2 separate regions of the Homo sapiens genome follow, and region 2 is linked to region 1. The links come from fine-mapping of genetic effects on gene expression. A gene starts in region 1. The other region holds a variant in brackets. All regions are shown on one strand. Distances are from middle to middle. Region 1 holds the start of GATD1-DT (GATD1 divergent transcript). Region 2 overlaps EPS8L2 (EPS8 signaling adaptor L2).

The links. PIP is the estimated chance that this variant, and not a neighbour inherited with it, causes the effect. A credible set is the group of variants that fine-mapping cannot tell apart.
Region 2: its variant is the best candidate, but not a certain one, in a credible set for the expression of GATD1-DT in whole blood (TOPMed, PIP 0.55).

Annotation. Positions count from the first base shown.
Region 1 is chr11:776,287-779,286 of GRCh38, forward strand. It overlaps GATD1-DT (GATD1 divergent transcript), which reads left to right and starts at 1,292. Exons shown (of 2, transcript NR_126343.1): 1 at 1,292-1,409. It overlaps GATD1 (glutamine amidotransferase class 1 domain containing 1), which reads right to left and starts at 1,201. Exons shown (of 8, transcript NM_182612.4): 1 at 1,113-1,201. The coding sequence starts at 1,176. LOC124900301 reads left to right here and starts at 1,292. Exons shown (of 2, transcript XM_047427954.1): 1 at 1,292-1,409; 2 at 1,831-3,000. RefSeq lists silencers at 622-831, 842-1,551, 1,602-1,701.
Region 2 is chr11:720,772-723,520 of GRCh38, forward strand. EPS8L2 (EPS8 signaling adaptor L2) reads left to right here. Exons shown (of 21, transcript NM_022772.4): 7 at 59-138; 8 at 293-435; 9 at 514-581; 10 at 794-920; 11 at 1,132-1,220; 12 at 1,320-1,394; 13 at 1,630-1,778; 14 at 1,902-2,034; 15 at 2,470-2,582. Among named protein-coding and RNA genes, the nearest start is that of EPS8L2, 16 kb to the left of the region's middle. RefSeq lists silencers at 1-207, 238-287, 318-467, 1,398-1,447. The variant G/A (reference allele first, on the strand shown) is at 1,422.

The DNA of each region.
Region 1 (3,000 bases):
TTCTTATATAAGTTAATACATATTCACTGTAAAATGTCCACTTATCGAGGAAAAACAAAGTGCCCAGTAGACTGCCGCAGGCTCTGTTCCCCCAGCTGCCCGCCCTTCCGGCCTCCTGAAGTGCTGCCCCCAGCCTGCTGGCGCTAAGACCCCACGTCCTCAACATGCCGGACCTCCTCACGCCTACCTGCTCTGGAAACAAGCCCCAACCCACCCCCCCAGGACTGAACCCCACTCGAGGCTCCTCCCACCCGCAGTCTGGGGGCATCACTCAGGACCCCTGGAGCTCAGCACATCGTGACGCCACAACCCCACAGCCCCATCTCCCCGTCCACACTTGAGGAGCTACAGACTTCAAGAGGCAGACCCCTGGGTCGCAACCCCGGCCCCCACCTCTCCGTGGTGCGGTGACCTTGGGCTGCTCACTTCCCTCTCCAAAAGGCTCAGAACAAGGCCAGGCACCCTCGTGCTCCGCTGCTCATCCCTCCCCTGCTGCCCTGAGACCCTGCAGGCTCAGCGCCAGGGGACGCACCCCGCTGCGCTCCGACCCGCGTGAGCCCCAGGCCAGTACTGCCCTGGTACCCTTGCCCCAGGACGGGGGCCGCGGGGCGCCTTCTCCAGGAGGGGGCTCCGGGTCTCCTCAGAAGCCGGTGGCTCAGAAGGTCAGGGTCCCCGCGGCCGCCCGACCTCAGAGCTGGGTCAACTCCCGGAATGGCCCCTCCCCACACCCGGGCTCCCCTCTCGCAGCGCAGCGGCCTCAGAGACCAGGCCCAGGCACGCGGCTCCCTCCGCTAGAAACGTCGGGCCCGGGCCGCCTCGCCGGGCAGACGAGACTCGGAGGAGCGACGCGGCGCCGGGATCCATCACGACCCCCCGACCCCGCCCCGAGCTCCATCCCACCAACCCGCGACCCCACCCCCGCCCCCGTCCCCGCCCCGAGCTCCATCCCGACACCGACCCCGCTCCGCCCTCCCCCGGCCCCTGCCCGGCGCCCCCAGCGGCCTCGGCCTCCGGCGCCACGTGACGCGCGCCCACCGTGTCCCGAACCTCCCGCCCCGGGCAGCCCCCTCGCGGACGCTCTTCGGACACTGGCCCCGGCCGCCGGGCCTCACCTTCGGCGGCGCCGCTGGCCACGAGCAGACAGGCGGGCCTGTTAGGGAGCCGCTCGGACGCCATGGCTCGGGCTCGGCGCTGGGTCTGCGCGTGCGCGGCGTCTGGGCGCGCCCGGGAGTTCGCGGGTCACGTGCCCTGGCGGCCGGGGGCGGAGCCGGGTGGGACTGGGCGCCTGCGCGTTCGTACCCGGTCCGGGTCGGCTGGGCTGCCCGCCGCTCCGCGCGCCCGGGCGGTCGCAGGTCGCGCCTGCTTTGGCCCCGGCGGGTTCGGCATCCGAGCCTGGCAGGGGCCAATAGGTAGGGTCGCGAGGGTCCTCCCCGGCCGCATGCGCAGTCTGAGCGCGCGCGGGGTAGGGCTCTTGGCCTGGGGTGGGGGCGCGGGCATCAGCAGAGCCAGGCGGCGGTGTCGGGGCGCGAAGGTGCCCGTGGTGTTCCGGTGGCCACACCCGAGGAGCAGGGGAGACCGGGGGGCTGCGGGGTCAGAAGCTCCGGGTGTCCCCGGAGACTAGGAGGGGGACGGCGGGGTCCAGGAGGCGGGGTGGGCTCCGCCGGCCCAGGACGGGGGCGTCGCGGGGAGGCCTGCAGGGTTGTGGGGCGTCGGGCTGAGCTCCTGGGAGGACGGAGTGTCACTTCCTGAGATGGGGACACCTCGGGCGTGCTGGCTTTGGTGAGGAGAATTGAAGCAGTTTTTCTTTTTTTTTTTTTTTTTTTGAGACAGGGCCTCTGGAGTGCAGTGGCGTGATCTCGGCTCACTACAGCGTCTGCCTACCGTGTTCAAGCGATCCTCCCACCTCAGCCTGTTGAGCAACCGGGACCCCAGGTGCACACTCCACCACGCCCAGCTAATTTTTTTGTGTTTTGGGTAGAGAGGGGGTCTCACTGTGTTGTCCAAGCTGGTCTCGAACTCCTGATCTAAAGCGATCTGCCTGCCTTGGCCTCCCAAAGTGCGAGGACTACAGGCGTGAGCCACCGCGCCTGGCCTGAAGCAGTTTTTCCTTAGACTGTAGTTGGAGGGGGTGAGACCACGTGGAGTGGTTGGCAGACAGGCAGGCACCCTTTGAGGCCAAAAGGGCGCTTGAGACAGAGCCAGCAGGCGAGCGGGCCGCCCAGGTCCCTGGCCCCCTGCTGCCAGTATGAAGGTCCCACCAAGCCTCTGCTCCAACCAGGGGAACCGTCATGGTTGGGAACAGCCAAGGTGAGGAATTCTGTGGGTCACACCCCCTGAAAACCACTGGCCTCCGCCGGGCGCGGTGGCTCACGCTTGTTATCCCAACACTTTGGGAGGCCCAGGCGGGTGGATCACGAGGTCAGGAGTTCAAGACCAGCCTGGCCAAGATGGTGAAACCCCGTCTCTACTAAGAAAAATACAAAAATTAGCAGTGGCAGCACCTGTCATCCAAGCTACTTGGGAGGCTGAGGCGGGAGAATCACGTGAACCCAGCGGGGGCAGAGGTTGCAATGAACCAAGATTGCGCCACTGCACTCCAGCCTGGGCGACAGATTGAGACTCCTTCTCAAAAAAAAAAAAAAGCCACTGGCCTCTGGCTCCCCCTGGCCCAGCCTGGAGAAGGGTCCCTGACCCCCGTCAGACAAGCAGTGCACCCTGCCTCACCTGACACAGAGCCCTCCCACCACAGGGGAAGTGGGAGCTGGGAGCTCCTGGTACAGGCAAGGCCGAGAGTTGGGTTAGGGAGCAGAGGACGGAGCTGAGTGAGTGTCCAGTGTTAGGTGGGTGGGGGTGTTAGTGGATGGAGGTGTCTGAAGCCTCGCAGGCCTGCGGTCACACCACAGGCTGGGCCTAGCCGCTTGGAGAGCTTTCTGGATCTGCACAGGATCTTGTCCCCCACAGACACACACTGTGGGCCTCAAACCCGGGAGCAGGAGGGGC
Region 2 (2,749 bases), 56 kb before region 1:
GTGGGGCCCCGCCGCGCCGCGCCCCGCCCTCCTGGCCGCCTGACGCCCGCTTTCCCAGGCAGAGCTGGTGCACGAGGACATCGAGAGCGCGTTGGCCGACTGCCGGCTGGGCAAGAAGATGCGGCCGCAGACCCTGAAGTAGGGCAGCGGGCGGAGCGGGGTCGCAGGGGGCGGGGAGGGGAGGAGCCCGGCAGGGGAGGGGAGGAGCCGGCAGGGGAGGGGAGGAGCCCGGCAGGGAGGGAGGGTCAGGTGCGTTCCCGGCGGGGCTGAGCAGGACCCCCTCGCCCTCCAGGGGACACCAGGAGAAGATTCGGCAGCGGCAGTCCATCCTGCCTCCTCCCCAGGGCCCGGCGCCCATCCCCTTCCAGCACCGCGGCGGGGATTCCCCGGAGGCCAAGAATCGCGTGGGCCCGCAGGTGCCACTCAGCGAGCCAGGTGGGCCGAGGGGCTGGAGGGGGCTCCACAGGGCTCGTTGTGGGGGGCTCGGTGAGCAGCCGCCGTGTCCCCCATCAGGTTTCCGCCGTCGGGAGTCGCAGGAGGAGCCGCGGGCCGTGCTGGCTCAGAAGATAGAGAAGGAGACGGTGGGTGCCCGGGCCCGGCAGGTGGCCCCTCTCTTCCCCGCCCCCAGCAGTGGACACTGGTCCTTGCTGTCCCTCCGGCCAGTCCCCAGCCTGTGGCTGCCCCTCCGAAGGTGTGGGGCCCAGCTCCTCCCATCATCTGTGGGGCTGTCCCTGCAGCAAGGCGGGGCGGTGGGGAGTGTCAGGGGCTGACCCCTGACCCCCTCTGACCCCAGCAAATCCTCAACTGCGCCCTGGACGACATCGAGTGGTTTGTGGCCCGGCTGCAGAAGGCAGCCGAGGCTTTCAAGCAGCTGAACCAGCGGAAAAAGGGGAAGAAGAAGGGCAAGAAGGCGCCAGCAGGTGCAGGGGACAGGGACGGGGCCGGCAGGTGCAGGGGACGGGGCCAGCAGGTGCAGGGGACAGGGACGGGGACGGGGCCAGGGACATCCATGGGGGCTACTCATGGAGGTGGAGGAAGGTCCAGCCCACACAGATGGGCTGCGTGGGACAGAAGGCGCAGGGGCCGGGGAGATCAGGGCCAGCCTGGCTCACGCGGTGCCTCCCATGCCAGAGGGCGTCCTCACACTGCGGGCACGGCCCCCCTCTGAGGGCGAGTTCATCGACTGCTTCCAGAAAATCAAGCTGGCGATTAACTTGCTGGTGGGTCCGGTGGCCCCAGCCCTGCCCCACTGTCTGTGCTGAGGGGAGGGTGGAGGCCCCGCCCCGCCCCGGCACCTGCTCACTTGTTCCCACCCCCAGGCAAAGCTGCAGAAGCACATCCAGAACCCCAGCGCCGCGGAGCTCGTGCACTTCCTCTTCGGGCCTCTGGACCTGGTGCCTGGGGCCGGGCGGCAGGGGCGC[G/A]CAGGGTGGGGGCCCAGAGGCCTCTGCAGCATCTCCCCGGGGTCGGGGTTGGGGCAGCAGGTGCCCGCCTTGGGCAGCCCGGTTCACGCTGTGTGGCCACTCTCCCTGGGGTCCAAAGTCCCTTCCCGAGGGCCAGCCTGTGGAGCTACGGGGGTGCTGGGCCAGGGTCTGTGGGCCTCAGTCCCCTCTGAACCTCACTGTGCCCCAGATCGTCAACACCTGCAGTGGCCCAGACATCGCACGCTCCGTCTCCTGCCCACTGCTCTCCCGAGATGCCGTGGACTTCCTGCGCGGCCACCTGGTCCCTAAGGAGATGTCGCTGTGGGAGTCACTGGGAGAGAGCTGGATGCGGCCCCGGTAGGGCAGGGCAGAGCAGTGCCGGGGCTTCATGGGGGGCCAGCGCTGCATGGGGGCCAGCAAGGGGGTCCTGGTGGGCCAGTTCTGGAGAGGCAGGGCTGACTTCAGGACCTCTCACCCCAGTTCCGAGTGGCCGCGGGAGCCACAGGTGCCCCTCTACGTGCCCAAGTTCCACAGCGGCTGGGAGCCTCCTGTGGATGTGCTGCAGGAGGCCCCCTGGGAGGTGGAGGGGCTGGCGTCTGCCCCCATCGAGGAGGTGAGAGCACCAGCAGCCCCCATCCCTACCCCAGCCCCAACACCCACTCCTCACCAGAGCTCCCCCCCAGCCCTGACACCCACCCCTCCCCAGAGCTCCCCCCCCAGCCCTGACACCCACCCCTCCCCAGTGCTCCCCTCCCCAGCCCCGACACCCACCCCTCCCCAGAGCTCCCCTCCCCGGCCCCGACACCCACCCCTCCCCAGAGCTCCCCTCCCCAGCCCACCTCCACCCACCGCCCCTTCAGCCACAGCTCAGCTGCCCCTAGCCCCTGCCAGGAGAGGCAACCCATGCTGGCATCACCGGGCATCAGGCTCCATCACCCTCAGTGATGCATCAGTCACAGGACATTAGCCCAGCCCCTGTCATATGCCCCCTCGTCCTGGGACCCAGCCCCGCCCCATGTCTAACTCAGGTCGCCCACCTTCCCCACAGGTGAGTCCAGTGAGCCGACAGTCCATAAGAAACTCCCAGAAGCACAGCCCCACTTCAGAGCCCACCCCCCCGGGGGATGCCCTACCACCAGTCAGCTCCCCACATACTCACAGGTAAGCCCCCCTCAAAGTGAGGGAGCATGAAAGTGAAACCCTTCAGAACCTACAGTCTCTAAAAACATATGGGTACGCTGCCACCAGGTGGTGGCAAGTGCATTGTTCAAGTGGTTTAAAATACTTTTCCAGATTTGAAGCGGTTTTCATTTCAACTGCATGATATA